3 separate regions of the Homo sapiens genome follow, and regions 1 and 2 are each linked to region 3. Evidence: fine-mapped expression QTL. A gene starts in region 3. Each other region holds a variant in brackets. All regions are shown on one strand. Distances are from middle to middle.

Evidence for each region. PIP is the estimated chance that this variant, and not a neighbour inherited with it, causes the effect.
Region 1: its variant is the best candidate, but not a certain one, in a credible set for the expression of GDAP2 in whole blood (INTERVAL, PIP 0.62).
Region 2: its variant is the best candidate, but not a certain one, in a credible set for the expression of GDAP2 in whole blood (INTERVAL, PIP 0.63).

What each region holds. Positions count from the first base shown.
Region 1 is chr1:117,873,578-117,884,020 of GRCh38, reverse strand. It overlaps GDAP2 (ganglioside induced differentiation associated protein 2), which reads left to right. Exons shown (of 14, transcript NM_017686.4): 11 at 394-533; 12 at 2,144-2,198; 13 at 5,869-6,012. Among named protein-coding and RNA genes, the nearest start is that of GDAP2, 51 kb to the left of the region's middle. The variant G/C (reference allele first, on the strand shown) is at 4,490.
Region 2 is chr1:117,950,746-117,961,188 of GRCh38, reverse strand. It overlaps WDR3 (WD repeat domain 3), which reads right to left. Exons shown (of 27, transcript NM_006784.3): 16 at 10,299-10,355; 17 at 9,113-9,213; 18 at 8,781-8,892; 19 at 8,527-8,661; 20 at 8,193-8,243; 21 at 7,648-7,713; 22 at 7,090-7,182; 23 at 6,562-6,609; 24 at 5,831-5,874; 25 at 3,993-4,121; 26 at 2,186-2,279; 27 at 1-1,897. The coding sequence ends at 1,742. SPAG17 (sperm associated antigen 17) reads left to right here. Exons shown (of 49, transcript NM_206996.4): 49 at 7,140-7,599. Among named protein-coding and RNA genes, the nearest start is that of WDR3, 26 kb to the right of the region's middle. The variant T/C (reference allele first, on the strand shown) is at 6,769.
Region 3 is chr1:117,924,734-117,935,176 of GRCh38, reverse strand. GDAP2 (ganglioside induced differentiation associated protein 2) reads left to right here and starts at 5,556. Exons shown (of 14, transcript NM_017686.4): 1 at 5,556-5,729. WDR3 (WD repeat domain 3) reads right to left here and starts at 5,438. Exons shown (of 27, transcript NM_006784.3): 1 at 5,395-5,438; 2 at 1,687-1,889; 3 at 495-704. The coding sequence starts at 1,857. RefSeq lists enhancers at 5,286-5,455, 5,337-5,631.

The sequences.
Region 1 (10,443 bases), 51 kb after region 3:
AATGATTAAAAGTATAGAAATTCTACTTCTAATGATTTCGATATCATTGTCCTGGAGAGAGAAAACCTGGTAGTTGATCCAAGAACTTTTTCCAGTATATGAAGAATTGTTTTAGAGGATAGAGACTGATTGTTCTCCTCTATCACTTAGAATAAGACAGAAAGGAATTGTACTGTAGCACTTATGAGAATTATTAAACACTGGGATGATTCACTTTCCTGGAGCTCTTTTTAAAGAGAATGGATATTCATCACTCTGAGTTATCCATTTATGATGACTAGGGCATAGAGTAGGTTAATTTTCTATTTTGTTTTGTTTTGTTTTTTCTTGGTCTCTGTGAAATAGACTACTGTTCAAAATGATCTTCACCTTTATTCCCCTTTTATCTTTTAGGCTCTCTTATATTTCATTCATGTAATGGATCACATTGCTGTGAAGGAGTATGTATTAGTGTATTTTCACACCCTGACCAGCGAATACAATCACCTGGACTCCGACTTCCTGAAGAAACTCTACGATGTTGTTGATGTCAAGTTAGTTATTTTTGCAAATTATGAAGGGGAAATAGTTTCTTTCTTTTCTAATATTAAGCAGTGGCAAACATTGCTTTGTATTCTGTGAAAGGATATTTCATGTAACAAAGACTTTTATCATACCTAGATTAGATACTTCAATCATAGGAGACCCTCCGTAACTGAAACTTATTTTGCATTAAAGTAAATTCATATGTAAACTTTTTACATTACCAATCTTTGTGGATAAAATAACAAAAATACTACCTTCTATTTATATGATGTATTATACTTATCAAAATACATTTATAAACATTATTTACTTTGATCCTTTAACCCAGGAGTTGGTTAGGAGAGATATTATCTGTGTTTGAAAGATGGAAGATATTGACATTCTGCAAGGTGAAGTATGTGCCCAAAGTCTCACAACAGTAAATGCAGAATTTGGACTTGAACCCAGGTTACTGACTTGGAGCTAGAAAATTATTTTCATTAAAGCATATTTCCCTTGAAATGATAATGGAAATTTTAACCAGAAAATACATGATACCCCACTATAGCAAAGATGAAATGTAGTGTTTTACATTTTTTCTTATTTTTTTTTCTGAATAAAAAGTGGCACTCAACCCTCCTGTTAGCTGTTCTGTTATTTGTAGCATCACAATGTCTGTGTGGATTGCATTGAAAAGCCCATTTTACAGTTAGGGTACAAAGAAGGCAAGTTACCATAAATTTCCAGCTATCCTACTTCTCCCATTAAATCTCATCTTATTTAGGAATATTAAAGCTTTCATTAGCCAATAGACACCTTTTTAGCTTACTCTGAATGTGGGTTGTATATATGTAGTTCTGCTTCTACCACTAACCAGTTCTTAAACGTGGAACAGGCCTCAACTGTGAAATAGTTTGTACTATTTCTCTGACGTCCTTTCCAATTAACTTCACGTGACCCAATGTTGATTACTGAACTGTTGAAAAAATCTCAGGCACACGTAGAGAGGCCAGATGGAATAGTGGATAGGAGAATGAATCTGGAGTGGTATTGCCTGGGTTCAGTTCCTGGCTCTGCCACTTGATGACTGGGTGACTTTGGGAGGGCAAAAATAGCTGCAATAATAGTACTGAGCTCATAGAATTGTTTTGAGAATTTAAGTAGAAGGCCTCTACAATTTCTGGGGCACAGCAAATTCTGTTATAATATTGTTATTATAACAGATTGTTACAACAATCTGTTGTTGTAATATGACCATTGAAACTTTTAGTTTAAAATTTTGCTATAATTTTAAGTGGTTTAGCTGCTGTTTAACTCTGATCCCAGAGATTCTAGCATCATATTAAAAAATGACACACCATAAATTTGTTTCTTAAATACAAATTTACTTAACTTTGTCCTACCTATAGCAGCTGACAGAAGCACTTAATATCTCCTATAAAAGAGATACTTTAAAAAATGGAATGTTCTCTGAATTGTTTTTGGCATTCACCTAAAATTCAATCTGTAAATTATAGCTGTCTTTATTTTTCTCTGAATATATTTATATACTCAGGCAAATAGTTAATAGTCTATAATAGTAATTGGTTTTAGGCATGAACTTATACTGATTTTTTTTGTCATTTTATTTTTGGATCAGGTACAAGAGGAATTTGAAGGCTGTTTATTTTGTACATCCCACATTTCGTTCAAAGGTACAGTATTTTTCTCTTTGGTTAAATCTAGAATTTATGTGCACTGCATGCCCAGAGTATTAAGATAATAGCTCAGCAACTTAATTGTTGCTGTCACCATTGTGACTGCTAATTTCCTGGTTTCTAAGTGATCTTGAGTTGTGGTCCTGATGTTTTGGTTGTATGTGACTCCAGCGCCTTTGTGGGCAACCCTTATAAGCCGTTAGCCCATCAGTCCCTGCCTGTTTTTGTGCTCTTTGTTCATCTGGGCCTCATTTATGCTGTTGTTACAGAATACACTTCCCTCCTCTGCCCATGGCTACCTCCTGTTTGACCTTCAGGTCTCAGCTGTACTTTCTGTAGAAATCCTTCCCTGACCAATCCTGCAGCTAGTAGCTGTTCTAGCATTGTAACCCCTTAAGATTCTGTAGTCTTATATCATTGTTATGTTTTTATTTTAATTGCATGTTTAATTTTCTTCCTTATACATGAGCCAGCAAGATCCATGAGGGCTAGAATATAGCAGTCTTGCTCACAATTATATTCCCACTACCTAAGCCTACATCTTGACTTCATCAAGATATCTAGTCTCTTGGTCTTTTTACTTTCTGAAAATATCATCTTGCCCTTATTTTCTTCTCTATCAAGCTAAAAACTGACATTTCATCACTTCATCCACTCTTGTCAATGCCTAAATTAACCTATGACCTGTTACCCTTTCATCACACCTGCCCATCAAAACCTAAACTTGAAATAATCCATTGTACTGCTTTCTTCACTCAAAGAAACCGTCAGTAAGGAGCTCTTTATCTTTACCTTCCCACTCCAAACCTACTTGCTAGCTGTTCTTATCATTGCCTCCTTTTTCTCTGTCACAAAAATGTGTTCCATCTTAATGAACACATTTCATTAATGTCCTTCTTAATGAAGGACAGTCCCTTTCCCTGTGCTGTGAATCCCATAGTAATGACATTAGCTTAAGTTTTCTGAGCACTTGCTATCTGCCAGTTCCTCCCATGAATTATCTTGCTTAAGCTTTGCAGTATACCTGTGAAATAGGTGGCAGTAGTTGTCCCACCATACAGGTAAGGGAATTGATGCTTAGAGAGATTAAGGAACCAAGATAACCAACAGTTAGTAGCAAAGGCTGGATTTGAATCTAGGCATTTTAATCCCAGACTGTAAACTACAGAGTGTATTTCCATTTCCTTAAAGAAGCTCTCTTCAACAGTTAGTGTCTTTCTCCTCTCCCGCTTTGCTGGATCCAAATTATCTACCAACTTTTAAAAATGCTAAGATCTATTTTTCTCTCCTCCACTTTACGACCAAAATTGTTTAGTATAATCTTTGTTCTATGCTCACCATCTCCATTTCTCATGTACCTTTTAAATTACTCCAGTGTGGTTATCCTGCTTTGCCAGCTGAAGCTTTTCACACCAAAATCATCCATAATTTCTGGGTCACTAAATCTAATAGACACTTTTCTCTCTCTCTGTTACCTGCATTCCCTGCAGCCTTAAACACAGTTGATCACTTCTCCTTGACACAGTTTGTCTTGGCTTCTTTGAAACTTACCTTGCCTGGTTTCTCTCCTACTTCTAGCTGCTGCTTCTCAGTCTCATTTGTCAGCCTCTCTCTCTCTCTTCTCATCTCTTTTTAGAGACAGGGTCTCAGTCTGTCACCCACACTGGAGTGCAGTGGTGTGATTATAGCTCTCTGTGACCTAGAACTCCTGGCCTCAAGGGGTCCTCCCACCTTGGCCTCCAGAATAGCTAGGACTGCAGACGTGCACCATCATGTCTGGCTAATTTTTTTTATTTTGTATTTTTATAGAGATGGGGTCTTGCCCTGTTGCCAAGGCTGGTCTCAAACTTTTGGCCTCAAGTAATCCTCCCATTTTGGCCTCCCAAAGTGCTGGGATTACTGGCATGAGCCACTGCACCTGGCTTCCTGCTTGCATCCTTTGAGTGTTAGTGTTCCCGTGTTTCTCCACCCTCATCTTTAATTCTATACCTTTTTTATTCCCATTTCTTCAGTGACCCTCCAAAATATATGCAATCTTCAAACATATATCTGGGGAGGCAATAAAGCCTAATGTTTAGAACCATGGTTTCAAGATTCAGATTACCTGGGTTCTAATCCCAGCTCTACCAGTTATCAATTTATCATCTCAGGCAAGTAGTATAATTTGTTTGCTTTTATTTTATCCCCTATAAAATGGAAATAATAGTACCTATCTTTTAGGGTTATTGAAAGATGAAATGAGTTAATACATGTAAAATACTTAAAACATTACCTGACGTATAATAAGT[G/C]CTCAGTAAATGTACACTATCATCATCATTGTCATTATCATCATCATCATCATCATCATTATCATTCTTAGGCTTTAGACCTTGGTATTGAACTACTGGTTAGATATCTCTACTTAGGCATCTTATAGGACCCTGAAGTTCAACATTTTTAAACAGAACTCCTCATGTACTCCTCTTCCACCTATTCCTGAACTGCTATTTGTGTTTTCTGTGTTAGCAAATGGGACTTCTGCCTACCCAAGTGCCTAAGCCAGAAACCAGAGAGGCATTCTGGAGCACTTTCTGTACCTCATCTCCTAGCACATTGCATCAGTTCTGTGTGTTTACAATTGCTCAAATTTATGTCTGTGTCTTTATTCCCACTGCCTCTACATTAGTTCATCCCACTATCAGCTTTTACTTGAAATGACACAGCAGCCTCCTAATTAATTTTCATGTTGTCCTGCCTCCAATATTGCACTGCTCCAAGAACCTTCAGGCATGCCTTGTGAACGATTTTCTGATAATGTTATTATAAGAAGCCTGCAATATTTACTATAATGGTCCTTTTCAAAAAAGTTTGCTATTTCCTGCATACGTTACCTTCTTCTGTAAGTAAAATGGGGATAGCAACAATATCATACCTGCCTCATAGGACTATTGTATAGTATGTTGATAAACATGGACTAATTTGTGATTGCCAATTTAGATAGATAAACAGTAATTTTTAAATTCAAGCCATTACCTAGTTTATGTCAGTATTGTTTGGTATCAAGAATTTTTTATCCTTTTTTTGGGAACCAACAAATTTTGCAGACTAGCTTTTAGAGAGGGATTGCATGTTGTCAAGTGAAATGAGCAAAGATGGCACCACATCTACAAGTGATTCACTTTGATGGACTTCGAGAAAGAAATTCATGCCAAGCATCAACTGAAAATATATGAGTCCCAAATATTGGCACAAATTTTCTTTTCAGTCTCATTTGAAAAATTCACAGTGTGAGATTTGGAGATATTAACCATTTTCAGAAGACTGGAACACCAATTATTCTACCAAATAATGCAGCGGTTTTGACTACAACCCACAGTAAGAAGCATGTAGTACAGCACTAACACACTACACGCATGGGAACTTATATACATGTAATGGAAACAAAAGCTTCATGAAACAAAACTCATTCTTCTTATAGTCTCTAGTCAGTGTTATCCTCGTTTCTTCTTTTTAATGTTATTAATAATCAACTAAACTGATGATTGCAAAATTCAGATTGCGCTTTGAAAACACTAGTTATTTTAAGACTTTGAAATATAGTTTTTATCTACTATAAATTTTCCAAATTGTGTTTATGTTTCTAACTATGGCAACTAGCTTAAATTATTTTTTCTCTTCTATTAATCAGGTGTCAACATGGTTTTTTACCACCTTTTCTGTCTCAGGACTGAAGGACAAAATCCACCATGTGGACAGCCTCCACCAGCTGTTTTCTGCCATATCACCAGAACAGATTGACTTTCCTCCTTTTGTCCTTGAATATGATGCCAGGGTAAGAAGTACCAGAAGTTCTCCCTCACCTGGTATGGTATATTAACTGTTCTATAGAGCAGCACTTACGAGCACAACATCCTGTCATTACCAGATATTAATGTAAATTAGTGAGTCTTAATAAACTTGGTAATATCATTTAACATACTTTCCCTATGATAACTTTAGGAAAAGGATTTGTCCCAAGAGAGGCATTTTCTCCAGATAAACGTTTCAGTGGGAGATCTCTCTGCTGTGAGTTCAGAACCAATTTTCGTTTGTATTGTAAGTTTTCTACCATATTTAAAACAGATACCTCTGCCTAATTTTCTTAAGATTGAATGGCTTTCCATCTACACAGAGCCAGAAGAATTTATTGGTGATCACTTTTAGAATTAATTGCAAATCATGTGGCCTATCTCAGTAGTCTTTACCCTGCTAAAAGTTTCATTTATCTAAAAGGTTGTATAATGTTTTTAAGAGCATCATCTGATAATATTATTGTTGTTATTTATAGATGCGTTTATGGATCTGTTACATAAGCACTAGTCACAGGACTACTCGTGAATTTCATCAATTTATTCTATTGTGTTTATTCATGATATCACCTTAGTAATTTTTGAAAAAAAAAAAGTAACACACTTGGCCAAAAGCTCATCAAGCTGATTGTTTAACTGTTGCTGATTGCTTATCTTTATATTGTATGAACCAGGGGATAGATTTGAAAGTTATATTAAGTTTGAAATGAATTATTCTTCCCTAATTATTGTGCAGTGTTTATACAGCAAAATAAAAATTCTGCAACACAATTTCTCTCTAACATTTCTCTAACTTTAGCTATAATTTTTTTCCCCTTATGTGCAGAGTAAAGTGTATAATGTGATCTAATGGCTAATAAAATTTCATATTTGGCTGTTATACAGAGAGGATTTGTAACTGGAGCAGCTGGATCATAGATACAAAAATTGTTGAATATAGGAAAGAGAAAAGAGTACATTAGTTTGTATTTACTGCAGATTGCTGGAGTAGAAAATGATCTTAGTGTTTTTCCTTTGAACTCTACATCACTCATCTTAATGCTTAAAAAAATGGATAGCAGAAAATGTGAAAGGCACTAAGCAACATTTTTACACTCAAAATTTTGAAGACAATTCATAGCTAGTATCTGGATTTATCATTTATTTTCTGGGATAGAAATATATAAGTTGGGTGTTTGATTAGGAAACCTAAAGGACTGTATTTTAAGCCAAAGCATTTTCTATATACTTAAGGGCCTATAAAGCAGGCTTTCATTAAATATTAAGTATAGCTCCACCACACTCAAGCTTGGTTTTGTTTTTTGTTTTGTTTGGTTGTGTATTTTGGCTGTTTTATTTTTGTATAAATACAAGCATAATGTAATTAATCAAAATTAAGTAGACTAACTTATAATCTAACACTTGGCTCATTGGATCATCTCTTTGTACCTATGCTAGAGCTTTCTAAAATTGAGATGTTAGATCAAAGAGAGGCATAAAAATGGGGAAGAAACAAAAGAGGGTTTCTTAGTCCATTTCTTTGTTGCTGTAAGGGAATACCTGAGGCTAAGTATAAAGAATAGATTTATTTGGTTCATGGTTCTGCAGGCTGTATGAGAAGCAGGGCACCAGCATCTGCTTCTGGTGAGGGACTCAGGCTGCTTCCACTCACGGCAGAAGGGGAAGGGAAACCAGTATGTGCAGGGATCTCATGGTGGGAAGGGAAGCAAGAGAGAGGGAAGGGAGGTGCCAGGCTCTTTTTAACAACCAGCTTTCACAGGAACTAATAGAGCAAGGACTTACTTATTACCACAAGGACAGCACCAAGCCATTTATGAGAGATCTGCCCCACCCCATGACTCAAACACCTCACATTAGACCCCACCTCCAACACTGGGGATCAGGTTTTAACATGAGGTTTAGAGGGTCAAATATCCAAAATGTAGCATTTTGCCCCTAGCCACCCAAACCTCATGTTCTTCCCTCATGCAAAATACAATCATTCCATCCCAGCAGTCCCCAAAAGTTTTACCTTGTTCCAGCACCAACTCAGAAATCCAAAGTCTCATCTGGAGACTCAAGGCAAGTTCCTCACAGCTGTAAATCTGTAAACTCAAAATCAAATTATTTGCTTCCAAGATATAATGGTTGTACAGGCACTGGGTAAACATTCCCATTCCAAAAGGGAGGAATAAGAGGAACAGGCCAAAAGAAAGGGGTAACTGGCCCCTTATAAGTCCAAAACCTATCAGGGCAGACACTAAATCTTAAATCTCCAAAATAATCTCCTTTGGCTTTATGTTCTGCATACTGGGCACACTGGTACAAGGGGTGGGCTCCCAAGGCCTTGGGCACCCCCACCCCCATGGCTTTGCTGGTTGCCACCCACATGGCTTGCTCTCACAGGTTGAAGCTGAATGCTAGAGGTTTTTCCAGGCTGAAATTCTGGGTCTGGACGGGAGCAACCCAACCCCACAGCTCCACTAGGCAGTGCCCCAGTGAGGACTGCCTGGAGGTGCTCCACCACTGGAGCAGACTTCTATCTGGGAACCCAGGCTTTCTGATGTATCCTCTGAAATCTAGTTCCAAGCTGCCAAGCCTCCACCACTCTTGCATGCTGCATGCCTGCAGACTTAACACCACATGGAAGCCACCAAAGCTTATAGCTTGCACCCTCCAGAGCTGTTGCCTGAGCAGTACCTGGGACCCTTTGAGCCATCGCTGGAACCAGAGGGGCTGGGATGCAGAGAGCAGCATCCTGAAGTGTTAAAGCCTTGTCGCTCCCAAACCATTCTGTCTTCCTAGTCCTCTGGGTCTGTGATGCGAGGAGCTACCTCAAAGATTTATCCTTGCTAATCTCTCTAGCAAGTGGTTGCTCCACAGCACCCCTAGATTCCTCTCTTGAAAATGTTCTTTCCTTCTCTACCACATGCCTAGGCTGAGTTTCTAAAATTTTATGTTCTGTGTCCTTTTTAATTATAAATTCCAACTTTTTGTCATTTCTTTGCTCTCATATCTGGTTATAAGCTGTTAAAAGCAGCCACACCACTTCTTGAATGCTTTACTGCTTAGAAATTTCCTCCAGCAGATACCGTAGGGTACCAGTATTGTTTGGCCTTCCATAAAACCCTAGGGGATGGACACAGTGCAGCTAAGTTCTTTGCTAGGGTGTAACAAGGATGACCTTTGCTCTAATTCCTAAGTTCCCCACTTCCATCTGAGACCTTATCAGCATGGCCTTTACTGTCTGTATTTCTATCAGCATTTTGGTCACAACCACTTAACCAATCTCTAAGAAGTTTCAAACTTTCCCTAAGTCTTTCTGTTGTCTTCTGATCCTTGCAGACTCTTCTAGCCTCTGCCCATTACCCAGTTCCAAAGCTGCTTCCACATTTTCAGGTCTCTTTATAGCAACACCCCACCCCTCAGTACCAATTTTCTGCCTTCATCCATTTTTATGTGGCCATAAAGGAATACCTGAGGCTGGGTAATTTATGAAGAAAAGAGGTTTATTTGGCTCACATTTCTGCAGGCTGTACAAGAAGCATCACACCAGCATCTACTTCAGGTGAGGGACTCAGGCTGCTTCTACTCATGGTCGAAGGGTAAGGGGAGCTGGTGGGTGTAGAGATCACATGGCAAAAGAGAAAGCAAGAGAGAGAAGGAAGGGGCATGCCAGGCCCTTTTTAACAACAAGCTTTCATAGGAACAAATAGAGTGAGAACTTATTACCACAAGGACAGCACCAAGACATTTATGAGGGATCTGCCCCATGACCCAAACACCTCCGACTAGGCCCTACTTCCAGCATGGGGATCAAATTTCAACATGAAGTTTGGAAGGTCAGATATTCAAACTATAGCAGAAGATATCAGGAGATGATGTGGAAGGGTCAGGCAGAGAGCACATCGCTGGATACAGTAACTTTACATATTAGTGCTGCAGGTCTTTGGCTTTGTAGTCAGTGAAGAGTGTTCTGCAAGGGAGAATTGCCATTACATTGCTGTTTAGACAATGACTGTAGAAACAGCACAGAGAATGACTAGAGAGGGAAGGGTAAGTCCATGGGGGAAAAGATGAGGTCTATTAGTAAAGGCTGGCAGAGAAACGAGACTATATTGTTAGGGCAGTGGTAGTGATAATGGCAGGGATTTGAAGATTTTAGAGATATTTAGAAATAGACATTTTAGGAAATAAAATTCACAGCATTTGGTGACTGAGTAGCCACTAAGGATGAAGCAGAAAATAAGTTTCTGCTTTGGGAGACTTGGTGGATATGTTGCTACCACCACAGAGAAGCAATTTGGAGGAAAAGGATTGACAGATTAGGGGGAAAGGACAGGTACTGTGTTCAGTTTGTGACACAGTAGGTTTGAGATGCCCCATCAGTCATTGAAATGGAGATACCAGTAGGTAGCTGCATGTTACCTTGTAAG
Region 2 (10,443 bases), 26 kb before region 3:
GTCTCAGCCTCCTGAGTAGCTGGGATTACAAGCGCCTGCCACCACGCCCAGCTAGTTTTTTGTATTTTTAGTAGAGATGAGGTTTCACCATGTTGGCCAGGCTGGTCTGGAACTCCTGACCTTGTGATCCGCCTGCCTCGGCCTCCCACAGTGGTGGGATTACAGGCGTGAGCCACTGCACGCAGCCCAGATATTTTCAATAAATATATTGGAAAAATTTTTGGAGATCTGAAACAATGAGAAAAGTTTCAGATGAAAAAAATTAGGAAAAAAGTAGTTATATCATGAATGCACAAAATATATGTAGATACTAGACTATTTTATCATTTACTGCCATAAAATACACGCAAATCTATTATCAACATTAACACACACAAATACAGATCATACATGGTGCAATTCACAGTTTTGGGAGAAATGTAAAATAATGTAAAGATGCAGTATTAAATCATAGCTGCATAAAATGAACTGTAATACACAGTATGTTACTGAAATAATTTCACAGCCACCTCCTGTTGCTATGCAGTGAGCTCAAGTGTTGTGCGTATGCACTTAAAATGCTGTGACACTAATCACCTGTGCATGAACAACTCATCGCCCCAGTAAACTGCATATCACAGTGCTCCCAAAAAGCAGAGAAAAGTCATGACATTACAAGAAAAAGCTGATGCTTGATAAGTACCACAGATTGAGGTCTGCGGCTGTGGTTGCCTGCCAATCCAGACAGACAATTCATTTTATAAACAGATGACATACACTTATAGTATTGATAAACACAGTAAATATATTTTCTCTTCCTTATGATTTTCTAAGTAACATTTTCTTTTCTCTAGCTTACTTTAAGAATACAGTATACAATATATATAATACATCAGTCAGGCTCCCAGTCAATAACAGGCTACTAGTACTTAAGACTTTGGGGAATCAAAAGTTATATGCAGATTTTTGACTGTGCGGGGCGTAGGGGTGGGTCAGTGCCCCTACCACCTGCATTTTTCAAGTGTCAACTATATATATGTATGTGTACATACACATACACATACACACACACACACACACACACACACACACACACACACGAGTGTATTAATTCCTCAGAAGCCCAGCCAGGCATCTTAGCTTGGCTACTTTTTAATTAGAAACAACTATTTTATTCAGAAAAGTATAAACAGTTAGCAATTAGAATCTTCTTATATACAGACATAACTTGCAGAAGGTTAAGTCTGAGGACGCTGTTCTGGGTAATTTTTACAGTCCTTTTTAGCTCTAAGATCCATGACACTGCATTTTTATGGCCAAAGGGCAATCAATTATGCACCTGGTTGTCTCAATAGGCAGTAAAACCTAATATAAATAAATGACAAATCATCTGCCATAAAAAAATACGAAAAACTTTTGAAATGTTAATTTCAACTCCAATGAAACAAATACCTAATTAAAACAATTATTTATTCCCTGCTAGAATATAAAGGGAACAACAAGCTTGAGCTGCAAGGCTCAAGCTTTGAGAGCACAGAAAGATTTTTAAACTAATAATGCATTTTAAGTCCAAGAAATGGAGCCAGCCCATAATCTCATGTTGGAATTCCCTCAGGCAAAGCTGGAAACCACATCCTGATATCATCTGCAATGCGATCTTCTGTTATTTGGTATTTTTAAGATGACGCCAACTCTTCTGTGCTTAGTTTAGGAGTCCTTTAAAGGAAAAAGTTGAAAAAAAAAAAGATACCACATTTCAGTTCTAAGTCAACGTTAGAATCAACTTCTCCCTCTTTTTCCTCTTCCTCTTCTTCTCTTCCAAGTGGCTAGTAGCATCAGCAAAAAACATAACTTCACTTTTTGCCTCGCATTCCCTCTTGAGATAATCAAGACCAGCCATATTGAAGCCGATAACATCCTGGAGTGCAATACAAGAAATATTAAAAAATTTTCTCCCACTTCAATTCATTATAGCAGCGTATGAGAGTTAGGGTAACCAAAGCTTCAGGTGTTGTTACTTATCTTTCCCTCATTAAGAACTTTTCTTGTTTGTTTTTTCTATTCCTACTAATTCTAACAAAAACTATCTCAAATATGGATTTATCGGTGGTGGGTATTGCTAAAGACAAAGCACAGCATACTATACTATTTCTAAATCACACTAGGAATTTGCCTCATTATTTTATCTCTATACAAAGACACTTACCCGGACTTGGCTGACTTTTGAAATAGTTGTTTCCCTTAATTTTTCTATCACTGGCACAAGCATTTGATTGCTAGTGATCTGTCCAAAGTGAATCCTGATAGAAAAACAAAACACAGCCATGTTGCAGAGAGGTTCTAGCCCTACTTAACCCTTCTAGAAACAGTAAACAGACACAATATCAAAGCAACAACAAAATATACATTATAGAAATGTTTCGAGCAAAAAAAAAAAAAAAAGCCAAAGAAGTTTCTTTCTCTACTATTCAGTTCAATTTGATGACAACTTAAAAAATACTGTCCTAAACCTTATGACACATTCAACTCATTTGCAAAGGCTCTTCTTCCAGCCCAGCAACCTGCCAGTGGCTACAGATTTTGACAGTGGTACTTTAAGGAAAACTCAAAGACAGAATGAGCCTTCTAAGAAATGCTAACTTAACAAAGATGCATTAATACTTCTAATAAAGCCACAGCAAAAAAGAGACATTCGTGAGATTCAAACTCTGACCTAGAGTACCAAGATATCCTTGATGACCCTACCATACCTGTCAGGTAGTACCCATCCATAAGCCTCTGATACGCTATAAGTATTCACAGTGTTACTCGTAGAACCAGCAACCCTAATTCAATAGCACGTATACCATAGCAGTAAAAAAAAATTGTTAGTAACATGGTTAAATATGAACTTATGTCTTTACAAGTTGCCCCAAATTATGAATATGGCAACAGAACATATTATTCTTCTTCTCTTGCTACTATCCTGGATAGAGTATAAGAAATGGAGGGTTAAGAATCATAAAACCAGGCCAATTCACCAAATACCTATTTGGTCAGTTCACTACATATACCTGTTTAACTATTTGGCATTGGCTGACCAGTTTTTGTCTTCATAACAGTATTTGAAGGAATGTTCAATTTGTCTCCATCCCTGTTCTCTGCTGTAACCGCTTGAGAATGAGGGTGAGAGATGAGAAGAATATCAAGCCTTTGTGCATATATTCTTCTCAACTACCTATTAACAGAATCTTCATAAGTAAGAATATAGCCTAATGAACATATTTGCTTTATGTTCCTTAGTTTACCTCTATATATGCCCCTACATTTCCATTTGCACCTGTAGAGACCAAGAGAAATAAACTGACTTTCTTAAAATGTTGGTAAAGGACAAAGCAAAACCTGTTAGCTTACACTAAACACTTTAAAACAGGAATGTCCATCCTTTTGGCTCCCCTGGGCCACACTGGAAGAACCGTCTCGGGCCACACATAAAATACACTAATGATAGCTGATGAACAACAACAACAAAGAAATCACAAAAAAATCATAATGTTTTAATAAAGTTTACAAATTTGTGTTGGGCCACATTCAAAGCCATACTGGGCCACATGTGGCCTGCGGGCCACAGGCTGGACAAGGTTGGCTTAAAAGAAACAACAAATGAGGCAAACTGGCCAATCATAATTGGCTTTTGGCAAACTGACTAGAACCAGAGCTATCTTAAGATTGTAACATGGAGGCCTATGACTGAGTAAGCATTCCTGAGCAATGTATTACCATGACTTCTTACTTAAAGAGGTGGGTCATCATGATCCTTGTTTTAAAGGCAAGACTGATTGCTTGGGCTGGTAGCAAACTTCTGGGCTCAAGCAATCCACCCACCTCAGCCTCCCAAAGTGCTGGGATTACGGGTGTGAGCCACCGAGTTCGGCATACTATTTCTTAATCCCAAAGTGTTGACAGCTTCAGTTAAGGTACTACTGAAGCAGTTCTGCTGAACAGACATGGTATTCTTTGGAAAAGGATGTTACCTAAGGAGGAAGAAGAGGCACCGGCATATAAGTTCAACATCAGAGCCCAGCTGAATGAATTCGTTAAAGAGTTTAAGAATGTCTGGGACATAAGAGAAAGGCAGCACAAGTAGAGATTCTTCCAGCTCACTGAAAAAGAAAAAATAAATATAAAAATGCCACATTTGTTAACGTTGTTAACATGGTCAATTTTTAAATCCTTCCCTTTATTATTTTTTCTACTGATTTTATACTTGGATACATCTTGCCTAGAGTTAAATATTCATCTGTAAGCTAGATGACTCTCTTTGTTTTTTGTATTTAATATCTTAATCTATTTGGAATGCATTTTGGTCAATGGCATGATGGGAAAATCTAACTTTTTTTCCTTCCAGATAAACAATATCTCCAAAGCCTTTTGTTGAATATTCCATCTTCATATGATATTCTTTTACCATATATTGAGTCCATTAGAGTCTATTATGATGACTGATCCTGACATGATGATTGATCCTGACACCAATGCTACACTATTTTAATTTTGCTAATTTTGTAGCCTTTTAATCTGGGAAAATAGTTCCCTCTAGAACTAGCTCAAGTATTATTATTTCATCAATTCCAATTTAAAATCTTAAGAGGATATCAAATGGGATTACAAACCTATTAATTAGGAAAAGTTAAATCTTTAAAACACAGAATCTTCCTATCTTGAAATGTATTGTAACCTCCACATTAATCAATTTTCTTTTACATTCCTGTAGTGAAGTTTCATCTTTATCCTAAGACAAGTGTTGTTTCTTGTAAGGAATATATATGTAGATATTGTGGTTCATTATGAAAATGATAGCCTTCAGTAGTTCAAACTCATAAATAAAATCAAAAGGAAAATCACAAATAATATAACAATTATTGCAAAAATGTATGACAAAGAAAATAAAGTATGGTGCCCAGGCTGGTCTCAAACTTTTGGTCTCAAGTGTCCCAAAATGTTGGGATTACAGACATGAGCCACTGTGCCCAGCAAGAATTCTTTAAAAACCAGTAAAATAATACTTAAGAGCAAAAAGAGGTAACTAAAAATTCACAGGACAAAATACAAATGGTCAACAAATATGCTGAAATGTTAACTTCATTAATAGTCAAAAGAAATGAAAATAATAAAATATTACCTTTTGGCTCACACACTGGCAACAAATTTTTTAAAGCCTGCTAAAAATCAGTATAATCACCCTGGAAAGTAATTTGGCAATATAAAACTTTAAAAGCTTATGCCTACTGGTCAGTTATTAGGCTGCTAGGACTCTTAAGAAAAATAATCAATAATGATGACAAAGATATATGTGTAAACATATTCAGTGAAGCCACTGATAATAGCCAAAAAGGAGAAACAAATGCAATATCGAGTAATTATTCATACAATGGAATAATTCTGAATCCAATGATTTTTTTTTTTTGAAGAATATGAACAACAAACAAATGTTCAGGAAATATGTGAAAAAGAACAGAATATAAAACTTTATATAATATTCCAATTGTGTATGTACATAGAAAAGAAGCCAAAATATAAAACAAATTAACAATTGGTGCTTCTAATTGAATTATATATTATTTCATCGCCTACAACATAAATCACTCCCCTTTATTTGTCCTTAAAAGCATCTCTCTTCATACTTTAGAAGGAACTTCCTAGTTCTAGCACTTCAAAAAGAACATTATAAATTATTTTCCATCAAAACTTTGATATAGTTAAACCTATAAGATAACCATCAATTATAATTTCTATTTATTTCCCGTTCAGATAAGCACTTCATAAATGTTTGCTGACAGATTACAAAAATTGTGCGCAAGGACTCACTCACCTCGACTTGATCCCTTTAAAAATCTCTAATACATAAGCTGAAGGCTATAAAGGAAGGATTAATACCATTAGTGATACTCTTGGTTGGTTTCTACTAAAGTTCTCTAATTTCTATCTCCTATAAAACAGGAACCCCTCCTTCTTACTTCAGAAAAAGTATTCTAAAATGGCAAGATCTGCATGAGTTTAGAGTCAGTCAGATCTGGGTTGACAACTGAACTCTGCCCCTTACCAACTATGCTACAAGTCAAGCCAGATTCCTTATCTATAAGGTGAAGATACCCTGACTCACAAAATTACTGTGATGAGACATGCAATAAAATACTAATTAGAGATTACTAGATAAACATACATTCTCCCATCACTCTTCCCCTCTCTCTCTTCTTTATCTCATCAGACTGATTTCTGTCAACTTTCCTTCTGAAGGCTGATTCAAAAGTTAATTTAGATTAACAGAATCTTCAGAGGGCTTTGGACACTGAACATAAACAGGCACTAGAAAACAGAAGAATGCCAGTCCAGTCCAACCAAAAAGGCTGGCTTGGGAAGTCACACTAAAGTGGTCCTTTTGAAATACAAAATATCCTAGAGAATGCCAAGATTCAAAAGAGACTTTTGAAGACAAAGTATTCCCAATAATCCATCCCCAAATCATAATGCCTCTACTTCCTTTCTTGTCCTTGTAAGTAACCTTTTAATAAACAAAGGAAAACCGTTAGACATTTTACTCACTGAGATACTGCCATAAGCCATTAGGATGGGGTTGCTGGGAAGTGGAACCTATGAAGAAATTATTAAATCAAGTCATTAAAAAAACTGAGACTTAGGTAGCACTTGTTATAGACAGAGTGGTAACTGTATTTTATAATTTTGAAAAGGGAAAAAAGAGACCCTAAAAAACTGACAGAGTGTAAAAGAATTATCAAACCTGTTAGTTTC[T/C]ATAGTACTCATGAATGAGCTTGGACAATGTATTTTATCTAGAAATCTGAAATGGTTACCCTGCCTCCCAAACCAACATAGAACGTGGGTTTCTACTCAAGACAATAATCACCTCAATCTGTAATTTCCTTTCCTTCGCTTTCATTAAGACCAAGTTCCCTTCTTCCCACACTTCCTCAATTTCTTCTAATATAGTGAGTTGGAAAGATTCTATTCCATTTATTGCATATCCTGATCTTAGTTAATAAATCCCAAAACAATGGTTTTTCTCCTTGGGAATTCCCTTTATTGATACTGTAACTTACTGTACTCTCTTATTACCTCTTTCCCTGCAGCTTTACAAATGGCTTTGTGTTCCTTCATTTTTGCAGTTTCTTCTCGGTACAACTCAATAGCCTCCATAATCCTCTCAGCCTACAGAGGATGAGAAAGGAAAGAAGTCATCACAACATACTCCATCATCCCAGGACACTGAAACTGGAAGAACTGACCAGAAATTTGCCAAATGAAATAGCTTCAATCTGTTTAATAAAGACGTGCGAATAGAGTGCCAAAAAGCATTTAAAGACATTTTTGGTTTTCTTATTTTTTAATGTACAGGGAAGAGACTGAGTGTCATGGACTCAGGTGGGATGATATCTAGACACTCTGAATAGGGCAGGTCCCAGGAACACCTGAAAGGAGCACATATTGATCAAAGAGATTCAGGACTACTCCCATCTTTGGTTACAAGAGAAGGAAACAGGTTATAATCCCCATCTTTAAATCTCATCAACTTTTTGCCAAAAAAATGGCTTTCTGGTTGATACAGAATAAAACTTTTACTAAAAAGTTGAGATCTTATTAAAAAACGAGATACCACATTCTATATCAACTTACTGCTTTCACTGTTTCAATAGTTTTCTTTCCAGTAAAGTAACTGTCACCTTGAGTCTCTCCTGGAACCTGCCAGAAACAAAGAAATCCTTGAATAACACTGTTGACTGTTGAGTTAAAGAGCTGATAAATTAATCTTACATCCATATGAGAACAGCTATTATTATTTTATGAAAATACTAACAGTGTTATCAGCTACCAGTAACAGAACTTAGCATATGTATTATTGTAAGAACATCCTGCAAATGTTTAAAAAGAGAATATCCAAATTTTCTAATTTTTATTTTTGTGCTACAGTGAATAAAATAATTCCCTAAAGTCTCAATTGACAGAATAATTATTCAGTAGCAAATTTGGTCAATCACTTGAACCACAAAATTAGGATATACAGTTGAAGAGAAAGAATTACACAGATTCTTTATCAGCTGGTGATACCTGCAACTTCTAGCCTCAATTTTAATTCTATTAGAAATTCTGGACATTATAGTCAATTTCAATAAGATAACTATATATGGGGCATAATCTCAAGGTCCCCAAAATTTACTTACTGCTGGTTGGTCTTCTTTGGCCACACTCTCCTCATATTCTGCTTCTCTTTCCTGCCATGAGATAGATATACATTAATTTGAGAGAAAAAAACATGGTCTCTATATGAAGAGAAATGAGGAAGCGAGAAGCTGCTCCTTTGACAACATAATACCCTAATGGCATCTTTATCTCTGCCTAGCTTCTGAAATGGGTGACAATGGTCTTGAAAAGATCTCCTGAAGGTTCTTGGACTTGGCAATGCATCAGGTGTAACTGCACTAGACAGAAAACTTCAACTAGGACAGCCTGTCAGATACCTACTGGCATATTTGTAACCAAGCCTAAAGTTCTTACCATCTCCCTTTCTTCCTCAAGAATAAGAGGCTCCCTTGTTCTCTCCCAAAGTCTCAGAGATTTGTCATGGGACGATGATACAACATAGTCTCCACTGGGGCTTACAGCCAAACACCATATTTCCTGGTGATGACCCTGGAGGAGAAAAAAAAAATAAAGAATACCTCATTCATTGACCACTACTTAGTGGGTAATGTAAATATTCTTAAAAGTATTTCTTAAGTACCAAGCAAGCACAGAAGGCATGTGGTTACCTCCAGAGTCTGTATGTGTTCAAATTTGTCTGCATCCCACTGTTTAATCTTATGATCTTTTCCGGCAGTGAAGAAGAGGTGAGACTTGGGTACAAACTGTAGGTACATCACACTGAAAAGTGACAGAAATATTAAAATGTCATCAAATTCCAGGTTAGTAAAAAGAGTTTTACACACATAAATAGCTTTTGACTAGCTAGTTCTAGGGTGTCTGACTATATTTTAGAACTTGTATCACTGCCTGAGAACACTGAAAAATAGACACAGATGCTCAAGGAAAGTGATAACTTACAGGTGACTCAAAGGGAGACATTTGAAAAGACTATACATACCTGTCATCATGTGCAAAGAGAGACTTGTGGCAGTCCCCAAAGTCCAAACCCCAGATTTTCACATTCCTATCAGCGGAGCCAGTTGCTATGAGTGCTCCATCCTATGAGAAATAAAAGTAAAACACTACCTTGATTTTTGAATTCCGTATATGAATAAAAAGCTAACCAGAATATTTAACCCATTTCTTTCAAACACATTAAAATGAAGCCAAAAAACTGATTTTCATCTCTACTAAAAACACTGAATTCTTTGCTCTTACCTACAGAGGAACTTAAAAAGCTTGTTAAGTAAAAGCACGAACTCTGTGGCTTAAATACTTTCGTACTGTCACAGGGCAGTGCTGTGCCTTGACATAGGGTTATCTATTTACTTCGTTAGATAGGAAAAAGATTTTCTAATCTCTGGCATGGGATTTGGAAAGAAAGTGGGAGAAAGAAACAGAAGAGAAGCTGAGAAAGACTCTACTAGAATGTTTATGTAGCCCACATTCCCTATCAGTATTTCTCTTATCTCTCCTATTTCAATGCGTGGTCCAAATGGTTGTCAACATAAAAAAAAAAAAAAAAAGAAATACATTTAACATTGTAACTTAACTTTGTTAGTGCACTGACCACAGACAGCTATGAGGTCAACTCCTTTCACACAGAATAGACTTTTTTTTTTTTTTTGAGACGGAGTCTCACTCTGCAGAATAGACATTGTTTTTAATATACATTGCCACTCCTAATCAAAACTAGGTATTGGGAAATAAATGATTTTGGTCAAGAGACCAAAAGTCTACATAGTGTAAAATACCGTAACTATCCAAATATAAATCCGAGCTCCTCAGCAGCATTATCCTTCAGAATAAAAAGGAATGCCTTTTTAAAGTCTTTCATATTTTAGTGTACTCTACCAATTATAGTATTTTAAACAATAAAGTACTATTTGGGAGAGCTACAAGAGGGAAAGAGATAATATTTATAAGGATTGATTGAGATGATATTTGCAAAATTATTCTGAAAACATTAAAGTAATATATATAAGATACAATATATATTAATTTGAGACTGTTTTTGGAGAAAGATATATAACAGAATGATGATAAAAACAAATAATCTAAGATGAAGACATCAAGCCAGAATTAAGAAAGTATCTGCTGTAAAAAAGACAACATATTACTGAGACACTATTTAAACTACTTACATGAGAGATGTCCATGCATATAACAGGCAGTTTGTGTCCATACAGTGACAGAAAAAACTAAACATCAAAAAAACATAATTAATGTCTGTCTATAAAATATGGGTATAATTTATTACATGTAGGTCTAAAATATAACTTTAAACAC
Region 3 (10,443 bases):
GAACATGGATTATATCTCTATAAAAGTCTTCTATTCCATTCTTCAGTAAAGTTTCATGGTATTTTTATGTCTGTTACTTAATCTGTTGTGAATGGAATCTTTTATATTTTCTAACTCATGACTTGTGAGATACAGGAAATTCTACTGACTTTACAGAAGTCAATGGCAAATAATTATTTTGTCTCTTCTTTTCCAGTCTTTGTTTTCTTTCCTTATTTTACTGTTTTGCGTAGCACTTCCACAATAAGAGTTATCATGGCTCTCTTCATCTTATTCCTACACTTAAGAGGCTTTTATCAGAAAATATGACAAAATGAACAAAAGGAAACAAAATGAACCACCCAATTCACACCCATCCTCTTCACTCTATCATTATACTACTTTGTATATTGACAGCCCATTGTTTTACCTGACAATTTTTGTCAACAACTTGCTTCAGCATAAGCCTTACATTCCTTTAATAGATCAAAGCCTGGGCTGATTCAAAGGCTCACCTTGGACCCAGATGCCAGTCTGCCTCCTAGCTGATCATACTTCAAGGTAGTGATAGCTGCTTTGTGACCATTGAAGGTCACATTTCCTTCCCCACTCAGGAGACTGAAGATTCGGATCGACCCATCCTCATACCCAACAGCTAAGTGTAGCCCATCTGGGGAGGGGCATAAGCAAGTAACTTCTTGTTTAAGCCCCTGAAGGATAAGAATCTGAAATCATAAAAATTAAAAACAATGTAGAAGAGTTAAGCATGAACTCAAGGGAAAAGCATAGGAATACTCAGGCACAGTAAAATTAAGAGCACCAATAATTCCAAATTACTCTTATGAATAAAAATGAAACTCCACAATCCATTTCAAGTTTTTTAATATAGAAATTAGTATTTGTACTAGGCAATGAAACATTTAAGAAAAGGCTTAATTATTTTCTCCAAAGCCCTACGTTGTTGTAATACATATAAAAACTCCCTAGGCAATAAAATAAATTTAATCCCTTTAATCTAATTCTTAACCCTAGAACAACACTACGTGATTTTCAATAAAGGTTTATAAATTCCTTTAACTGAGACCCATTTTATAAGAAAATAATCTGTGTGGCAACAGAGTACTGCAGTGGTTTTAACCACAAAGGACTCTTGGTGGCAACAAGAATCAAAGTACTAACCTCTTGGGAATCACAAAATGAATGGACAATATCAAAATGCCTATATTTGGTTTGGCAAAAGTGGTAGGCTTAGGGAATTCAGTCACACAAAGTATCAAAGTCTACTTTAACAACACTTGGGCATTATCCATATTAGAAAAAGATTCTGCCAAAATAGACTAACCTTCCTTTTACATGCCTAATATTTTATAACCAGCTATAAGCATAAGTCGAGCTTGAAAAATAGAATTGGTAGAGAAAAAATACATCAGGAATAAATAATTACTGCAAATAATGACCTGTAAATATTCCAACAAATAGACATCTAAGAAATAAGCTCCTATTTCATTGTGGTTTTCAGAATTCAGTGGCGAAGAACACAAAGGAACTTGATGCTTGGCTAGCTAGACCTAAAGGAAAAAGATTTTTCTTCTAAGGGCACAGACACAAAAAAACTCATGATAAATAAATCAGAGCCCCCCCACTTCTACTACCTCTCCATCCTCAAATACCAATAAATCAGTATCAAACTGGTCATTTTAGGCTCACCTTCTCTCCTTTCCTTAAGTCCCAGATGAAAACGTGTTCACAAGCTGGTACTGCCACATAACGTCCTTTCTCACCACGAAGTGTCACAAAGACAATATTACCTTTTTGGCTGCCGATAACGCCAAAGACCGCACTAGCAACATAGCGTAGGTACTGCTTGGTGAGCCCCATGTTGTGATGTCTGATACCACAGGTGAAGCAATCTGTGCATATAAACAAAGAAAACTCAGCTCCTTGGGTGCCTTGGTTCTACTAGGTTAGTAAACACCAACTGTTTTTTTGTTTTTGAGACAGAGTCTCACTCTGTTGCCCAGGCTGGAGTGCAGTGGTGGGATCCTGGCTCACAGCTGACTCCACCTCCTAGGTTCAAGCGATTCTCCTGCCTCAGCCTCCCGAGTAGCTGGGACTACAGGCATGTGCCACCATACCCGGCTAATTTTTTTTTTTTTTTTTTTTTTAGTAGAGATGGGGTTTCACCATATTGGCCAGGCTCGTCTCGAAAGCCTCACCTCAAGTGATCCATCCGCCACGGCCTCCCAAAGTGCTGGGATTACAGGTGTTAGCCACTGCGCCAGAACAACACCAACTGTTGATCATGTCATTAAAAGCATGTAACTTGTGACTTCTTAATCTTTATTTACTCTAAATGAATCATTGACCTAAAATACCTGGACATCATTTTTTATTCAGTGTTGACTCAATATAATCCCTCATTCCTCAAGTTCCAAATTAGTCACGTTGTCATGCCCACCTCATGCATATCTGACATTATAGGCTCAATGCAGCTAAACTGATTTACTTCTGCCCATTAAACCAGCATCAAAGCTTTTACACAGAGATTGGCAGTCTGAGACTGAACATATTTTTCAATGAATATCTATTGAAAACCTACCAATTAGACAGGCACCATTCTAGACACTGGAAATACACTATTAACAAGGCAAAATCCCTAACCTCATGGTACTTACCTTCTTGTACAGTGGTTCTCTAACTCTAGTATACATCCAAATCACCTGGAGGGCTTATGAAAACATTGCTAGAAAACACCATCTCATCTCTTCTCCCAGCACCTGTTTCTGATTTCATAAGTCTGAGGTAGGGCCTAGAATTTTTCATTTCTAACAAGTTTCCAAGTGATGCTGCTATTGCAGTTCTTGGACCACACTTTGAGAACTACTAGTACATGAAAGTCTGTCCTTCATTTCAAAATCAGAGCAGCCACTTACCCTTGGCATAGAAAATGGTTGAGCAACTTGGCACACTATTTTTGGAAAGATGCCATAATTTCTGCACTTTTATTAAATTCACTGAAAATCCATAATCCACTGGTTATTTATAAAAGGGACAAGAGGTGAATGAAGGAGATAACAAATCAGTCCCATCTGTTCTTTACATGGAAGAGTAAAAAGTATCCCCAAAAAACACCCATGCAACTTAAAACACACAAAAATAAAGAAGTTACAGTCTTTTATGAGGAGCTGTTTCTTTTTGCTATTGTTTTTTGTTTCTTTGGTTGGTTGGCTTAACTCTACAGGGTCTTTCTAATTATCAAATGCTGTTTTAGTCTAACACAAAAAAAATTCAATCTCAACTCTCTGATAATATTTTCTGGTAATAATCACTTACTGGCCTCATTGCTTCTCTCACAGGAACCAACATAAAGCCAATTTAAAATCAAGGAAAGATAATATTAACATGGTGATAATGCTCTTAGCCTAGGCCATTTGATTAATTCTTTCCCAATTCCTCTTATTCCTCCAGACTCTGTAGTTGTTCCTTATGTTTGTCTGTCTTTGGCCATCTACCACCTCCTTCTACAGTGTTTTCCTTGGAGAATTCATATAGCATGCCTAGGTCCAGGGACTCCCATCTGTCTATTTCCAGTCCTTTCCACCTACATGAATACTAATTATAGAGTTTCCAATATTTACTGAACATCTCCACTTGAATACCTTATAGTTTCACATTTAACATGTCTATAACCAAGCCTACCTTACTTCTGGTACCCCTCTCTTTTCTTCTGACACTAAGACACAATTTTCCCAGCTCTTCAGGCTCAAAACCATTTAATAACCTTTGAATTATTAATAAAAAAATATTATTATAGCAGCCAAGATTTAGAGAGTGCTTACGCTATAGTAACTGATAACATTATGCAATTGTTTAATTACATACAGCAATTAATGAAACCGAGCTAACATATGCAAAGCACTTAGAAAAGCCTCTAGCACATTGTAAATATGAGCATAAAAAAATTATCCATAAGGACCTGGTATGGTGGCTCATGCCTGTAATGCCAGCACTTTGGGAGGCCAAGGCCTAGGAGTCAAGAGTTTCAGACCAACATAGGCAACACAGCAAGAACCTATCTCTACAAAACATTTTTTAAAAAATTAACCAGGCATGGTGACGCACTCGGGGAGGCTGAGGCAGAAAGATCACTTGAGTCCAGAAGTTCGAGGTTGCAGTGAGCTATGATCACGCCACTGCACTCCAGCCTGGGTGACAGTGAGACTCTGTCTCTAAAAATAAATAAACAAATTCTCCACAATAACACCACAAGGGAAGTCACTCTTCCTATCTCTATTTTACAGACAAGGAACTCAGACCCAGAGATGGCAAATTGCTAACTCAAAGTCATTTAGCAGCTAATTGCCAAAGCCAGATCCCAATCCAGCCAGTCTAACTCCAAAATTTCTGCTTTTAACCACTATGCTAAACTGCTTCTCTTTGCCTCTTTCTCTTTAGTCAATTCCACCTGACTGTTACTCTGAAACAGGATCCCTTTCTCTCCAGCACTTTCAGTTCCAGCTCTTTATCACTGGATTACTGCACTGATTTTCCACCTAGCACCTCCGCCTCCATGTTTTTCACTCTTTTCATTTAAACGTCATAATACTACCGACTAATCTTTTCAAATGAGCTTTCCCTATCCTAAAGCCTTGAAAAGGCTAAATCGTTTGCCAGTTTCCAAAAACTCATCCTATCTAACCCCCGTATTTCTCGAATAAACCTTCCTGTCAGGCTGGCTAGTTTCCTTCCTCGTCCCGCGACCTTGTATTCTTCATATTATTCGTTTTACTTAGAATAACATCCATGTTCTCCTCTACTTCTTTTAACTAATATTATCTTCTGAGGCCCACTTCCTTTCGAGTAAGCCCAATTCTAGCAGCCTTTTTTCATCGCCTCGATATTTAAACTACCTCCCATACAACTTGCACTGTTCACTTTGTTCCACGTGCACAGCTTTCGCCTCCTTTCTGACAGTTCACGACCAAACCTTCTTCCGAGACCCCATGATCTCCGCTTCCTAACCTACAGCCCCCAAAACGATGTTTCCAAGATGCACTGAAGGCCTGGACCGTGGCAACAGACCTGCCACACATTCCTAAACGAGTCTTCGGTCAGGGGAGGGTGACGGAGGGTTCCACACACCGAACACACGGTCATATCATCCTCAGGCCAGCCCGTGCACACGCACGGTCAGGCAGCTCTGCTCAGCACCCGCAACCGCGCCGAGTAGCTGAGGGGCTTCCAAGTACTGCTGTGGGGACGCCCGTAGTTACCTGAGTTCCCCCAGCCCTAGCAACCGGCCTTTAACACGCCCGTCTCGGCTGCTGCTGACATCACGAACGCCTCAGCCAGAATCTGCAAAATCGGAGCCGCAGATAATGCTCTCCGCCCCAACCACGCACCTCCAGGACTCACCTCAGCCTCCACGAGGCTCCCAGCCGATTGGACCCGCCCACAAGACCTGCCCCTTCCGGGTCCGTTCCGGAAGCCTCTTCCGCCAGAGGTTCCCTTTGCCTTCTAGGAGGAAATGACGGAGAAAGCCGGGCGCTGATTGGTGAGCTCTGGCCAGGAGCGGAAGCCGGTGTTTCGCAGCCCAGAGCATTTGCAGCTGGTCACTCCAGTCTCCTGGGACTTTGACTCGCCGTACTCGGCGCGCTCCTGCTGAGGGTCGCCGGAGATGTCGCTCGGCCGCCTTCTACCAGGAGCCTGATCCGTGCCGCCCGCCGCCCGGATGGGACCACCAGAGTGCTGTGAGAGGAGGGACTGAGGCCGGGAGGGAAGGCGGGGCGGAGAGGGCCGGGGGCGCGGTCCGAGGCGCTCGGGACTCGGCCCTGGTCAGGATTGCAGGCTGAGGGTTAGTTCTGTCACTTCTCTTGAAGAACGAGCCTGGCGCCACTTCCTCGCATGTTGGTTAGGTTCTTTCCCGAGGCGTTGTCGGGGACGCCGTCTCTACGAGAAGTGAAAGGGTGGGCAGTCGGCGGGCACTAGGAACAGTGGTGCTGTAGCCAAGGAGGCGGGCGCCCTAGGGTGCAGGTGAAATGGGGCAGGCGGGAGCTCTTGCTGGTTGTAGTCCCAAAGACAAGTCCGTGTTGCCGTTCCTGTGGACTGGACATTCTACGGAACCGAGAGCACCTCGGGTGAGGGGTGGGTAGACGCTGAGCCCAGGATGGTGCGTTGTCTAGGTTCCCGCAATCCCTGGAGTGACACTGGCCTGGCTTTGTGTTTCCGCTCTCTGGCCGCTTGAGGGGGAAGTGACCAAGGCTGACTCCTCCTTGTTTGCTCACTGAGACTTAAGTGCTCTTTCACCAAGTGGGAATTAGCTTTTCTCTCTTGCATTTCTGCTACTTTTATTCTTGAGCTGCATAGAAGTGTTTAGAAATGAGTTCTGATGTCTAGAGCTGTGCAAAATTAAAGCTAACATAGCTGTACAAAAGAAGATCCTGCCGGCGCTTCTTGAACAAGGTATCTGCAGCCAGCCTAGAAATTAGACTTTTGTCTACATTATCTGATTTTCTTTAGAGTTTCCTGAGCTTAATGCATGTTCAGCTAATCTTCCATATTCAAGAAAATTGCAATAGCAAAGAATGCGTATGATGAGACTGTGGACAGCTGTAGCAGCATAGGAGTTTTGAAACAAGATTGCTGTGTATTGGATAAATGAGAAGGGAAGAAATTGTGGCCACAAACTATTATTTTAATAAGCTTGGTGGGAAAGGGAGCATTTGAGTGGGTATGTATGGTTAATATCCCTGACAGGTGCTGTGCATTATATTATTATGGGGAGAAGTGTGTGCTTCAATGGAAAACTACATAGTTTAGATTCTATCTTAACACCCCTTGGAATAACTAATTCTAAAAAAGCTATTTTTCAGTTACGTAAACTAGGTAAGTGACATCAATGCTAAATAATTATTGTCAAGACATGCGAATTCTCTCAGAGATTCAGTGGAAGTTTTGCCTCCTTTTGCACATTTATTTCAATATTCCTGCTCTAAGGTGTCTAATTCTGGGATTTTCTTTATCTTCTCTGCCTGGTTCCATTTTGAGTTAAATAAAATCTTGAACACGGGTTTGGTTTTATATTTGAATGAGTCATGATTTTACCTTTTCTTAAAAAACTATCTTAATATTATTAAATATTATGGGATGGGACAACCACAGATGGAAAAAAATGATTTTAATAAGAGTTGGTATCAGAGCAACTGTGAGTGGTAAGGTAATGCATCTTACAAAATTCCTTATACAATGTTTCAAGGATGTAACTCTACTTCCTTATTTAAGTTTCAAAATGCCTAATATATCAATATTTACAATTAAAACATAGTGCAGTTCATTTAATATGAAGGGGTACTACTAATTTACTGTTAGGATATGTTCTTTGGGTGCTTTTGAATTATGATGTTAAATTTGACCCAAGCCATTGACAAGCTTAGGAATGTTCTTGTTATACTGTATTTATTGTTGACATATTTGACTACTTCAGTTAGTCTTCCAATCTGAAAATCTTTTTTAAAAAATGTCTTTCTGATGGCATAAAATGATTCTTAAGTATGGTGTTGGATGGTGGCATAAAATGATTCTTAAGTATGGTATGCACACATATCCTCATGTACTCTGAACTGTTAAATATTGAAATACAAAGTCATAAAGAATGGTAAACCCGGTAATTAATGGCGGTCAAGTGCATGCACCAGCTCTCTTTGTACTGTTGTTATCCAGGCTGGTCTGATCAATGTAAGCATTTTGAAAGACAGGTAAACAGGTTAAAAGTTACCATTTTTCTCTCTTAAATGATATCATTTTCTTTCTATCCAGAAAAAAAGTTTTTTTTGAGATGGTGATCCAAGGTATTATGCCCAATTTTGCCCAGTTTTGAACAATAAAATCTGATCTCTCTAGCCAATCCAATTATTCATATTAAGCAGTATTTAAAGGACTTCTTAAACTAAAAGATGACAGGATTTGAGGAAAAAAAAAACAAGTTACAGTGTAATGAGAGCTGTTTACACTGCACCATTTGAATTATAAAAGATACATAGTGGGTTATCTTTGTCTTTAGGTCCTCTTCACTAAAGTACTGAAGATCATATGGATATGGAAATAGATTTGATTCATTATGGAATCTTCTGTTTGTCCCATGTAGACTTTTTGATCCTTGGAAATTAATGTCTTGCTTCAAGAGCCTTTTTTTTTTTAACTAGGGCTTAGTGTTTGTTTATGAACTTATTAAAAGTACAGAGCTGATCAACTGATTTTCAGTGGACAGTCTTGCTCTCCTTTAATGTTAGCAAAAATTCTGGCTGTGGCTATAGATTACTGGGTGTAGGAGCCTTCTCCTCCTCCCTTTGTCACTTAAGCAATCTGTTTGCATTCTATCACTGAGATTCTAATTCAAATTTATTTACAAATCTACTTGTATGAGCTCATATACAAATATTCTGGGGAGTGAAAGGATCTGTATCTTTCATGTGATTCTCAAAGGGGCCTGTGACCTTGAGAATGTTAAAAACCACTGTTCTCTCAGGGATCAGGTTTTTCTGCCTAGCTTGGGTTTGTGGCTCCATTTACTGTATGTATTACTAAGGTGTATATGTGTTTAGGGGAAGGAGAGATTCAAACCTCTTTTTGGTGAGAAACATCAATTCTGTTTAGAGATGGAGTTGAAAAAGAATTCAACCTCTGTTAAATACTGTGACACTTCATAAAATGCCATTAAATTTTGTCCTACAATAAGAGCTATGAGCATTACTTTTACTTATTTAACATCCAATATCTTGTGGGTCACAATTACTTAAAAGCTAGGAAAAGGATCCAACAAACTCTACTGACCAGGTATGATCAGGGATATAGGAGAACCACCAGGGTATAATGTCAAAGAAGATAATAGAGTTTTGAGGAGGAAATGATCAGTAATAAATGTGGATAAAATTGGATTAATTCTTGGATTTGACATTTGGGAAGTTATTGTTGAATAGAGTAGTTTTCGTATAGCTGTAGAGCGGAAGCAAAACTGCAGTAGGTTGGGCAAATGTACGAAGAGGAAGTAGAGCTACAAAACAAATTACTCTTAAAAAGTCAAGTGGTAAAAAGGAGTTTAGTATTCTGAAGAAGAAATGAAGTAGAAGAAATAAAGGAGGAAAACCTTTTTGAGAACAGGAGGATTGAGAGGAAGGAAAAAGCCAAGATGTAATTGTAAAAGGAGAATTTATGTTGTAACACTCTCTTAAGAGGAGAAATGGTCAAATGAAGGAAATTGATTAAATTAAAGTGATTTGGTGGGCTTAAACGTGTGGAATATACCCTCAAATCGTCACTTGGAAGTTGGAAACAGTGAATGATTTTGAGTTGGAGGGAAGTTAAGGTAATTGTTCTCCTATGCAGTTTTGACACCAGTTATCTCATTGAATGCTCACAATAATCTTAGGAGAATTACCCTTATTTTAGAAATTAAAAAACTGGTTCAGAGTCAAAGATAACAAAACTATTAGATGATGGTCCTGGATCCAAACTCAGACCCTATGATAACAGAGTCCAAATTCTCACATCGAACCATACTGTCTCTGCCTCACTGTGTAATTGTGTGTGGAAATATTTACCTTAAAATACTAAAGAAACTGGATTCAAAATTGTACCAGTATGATTTTACCTATCACAGAAAAAGGTAGTAACTACATCAAAAGTTGAGGAATTTTTTCCTCCCCCTTAATTTTGGTTTCTTTTCCTTCTTTTTGTTTTGTTTCTTTTTTGAGATAGGGTTTTGCTCTGTCACCGTGCTGGAGTGCAGTGGTGTGATCTCAGCTCACTGCAATCTCTGCCTCCTGGGCTCAAGCAATCCTCCTACCTCAGCCACCTGAGTAGCTGGGACTACAGATGCATGCCACCACACCTGGCTAGTTTTTTGTATTCTTGTAGAAATGGGGTCTCACTATGTTGCCCAAGCTGGTCTTGAACTCCTGGGCTCAAGTGATCTCCCCGCCTCAGCCTCCCAAACTGCTGGGATTACAGGTGTGAGCCACTGCGTCCAACCGATTTGGTATTTTTCAAATGTTCTGTAAGCATGTATTACTTAGAGTCAGAAAGAAAAGTTATCTTAAAAAAGCAATTTTGTCCTGAAAGTTGGCATTCAAGTTTACAAACTGAAAACTGTGTTTGTGTTTAATGGATTTGTTTTTAGATTATAGCTAAGAGCTTTTTTATGACAATGACTCATTGTCATAAAAAATCTGCAGGTAATTTTTTGAAATTATGAACTTTTGTCAAGCGTCATTCCATTGAGCATGAGGCAATTTAACCATGATAGAAGAGTATATAGTCTTCATTTGTCCTCTGTTCAGCTTGTCTATTTCAAGTCTGAATACTTATGAACAGATCAACAAAACTTGTGGAAAGACCAATTTGATGGACTAAACACCAACTTTTAGGTAAAATTAATTTCTTTATTTCAAAGTAATTTCAAAGGTGTAT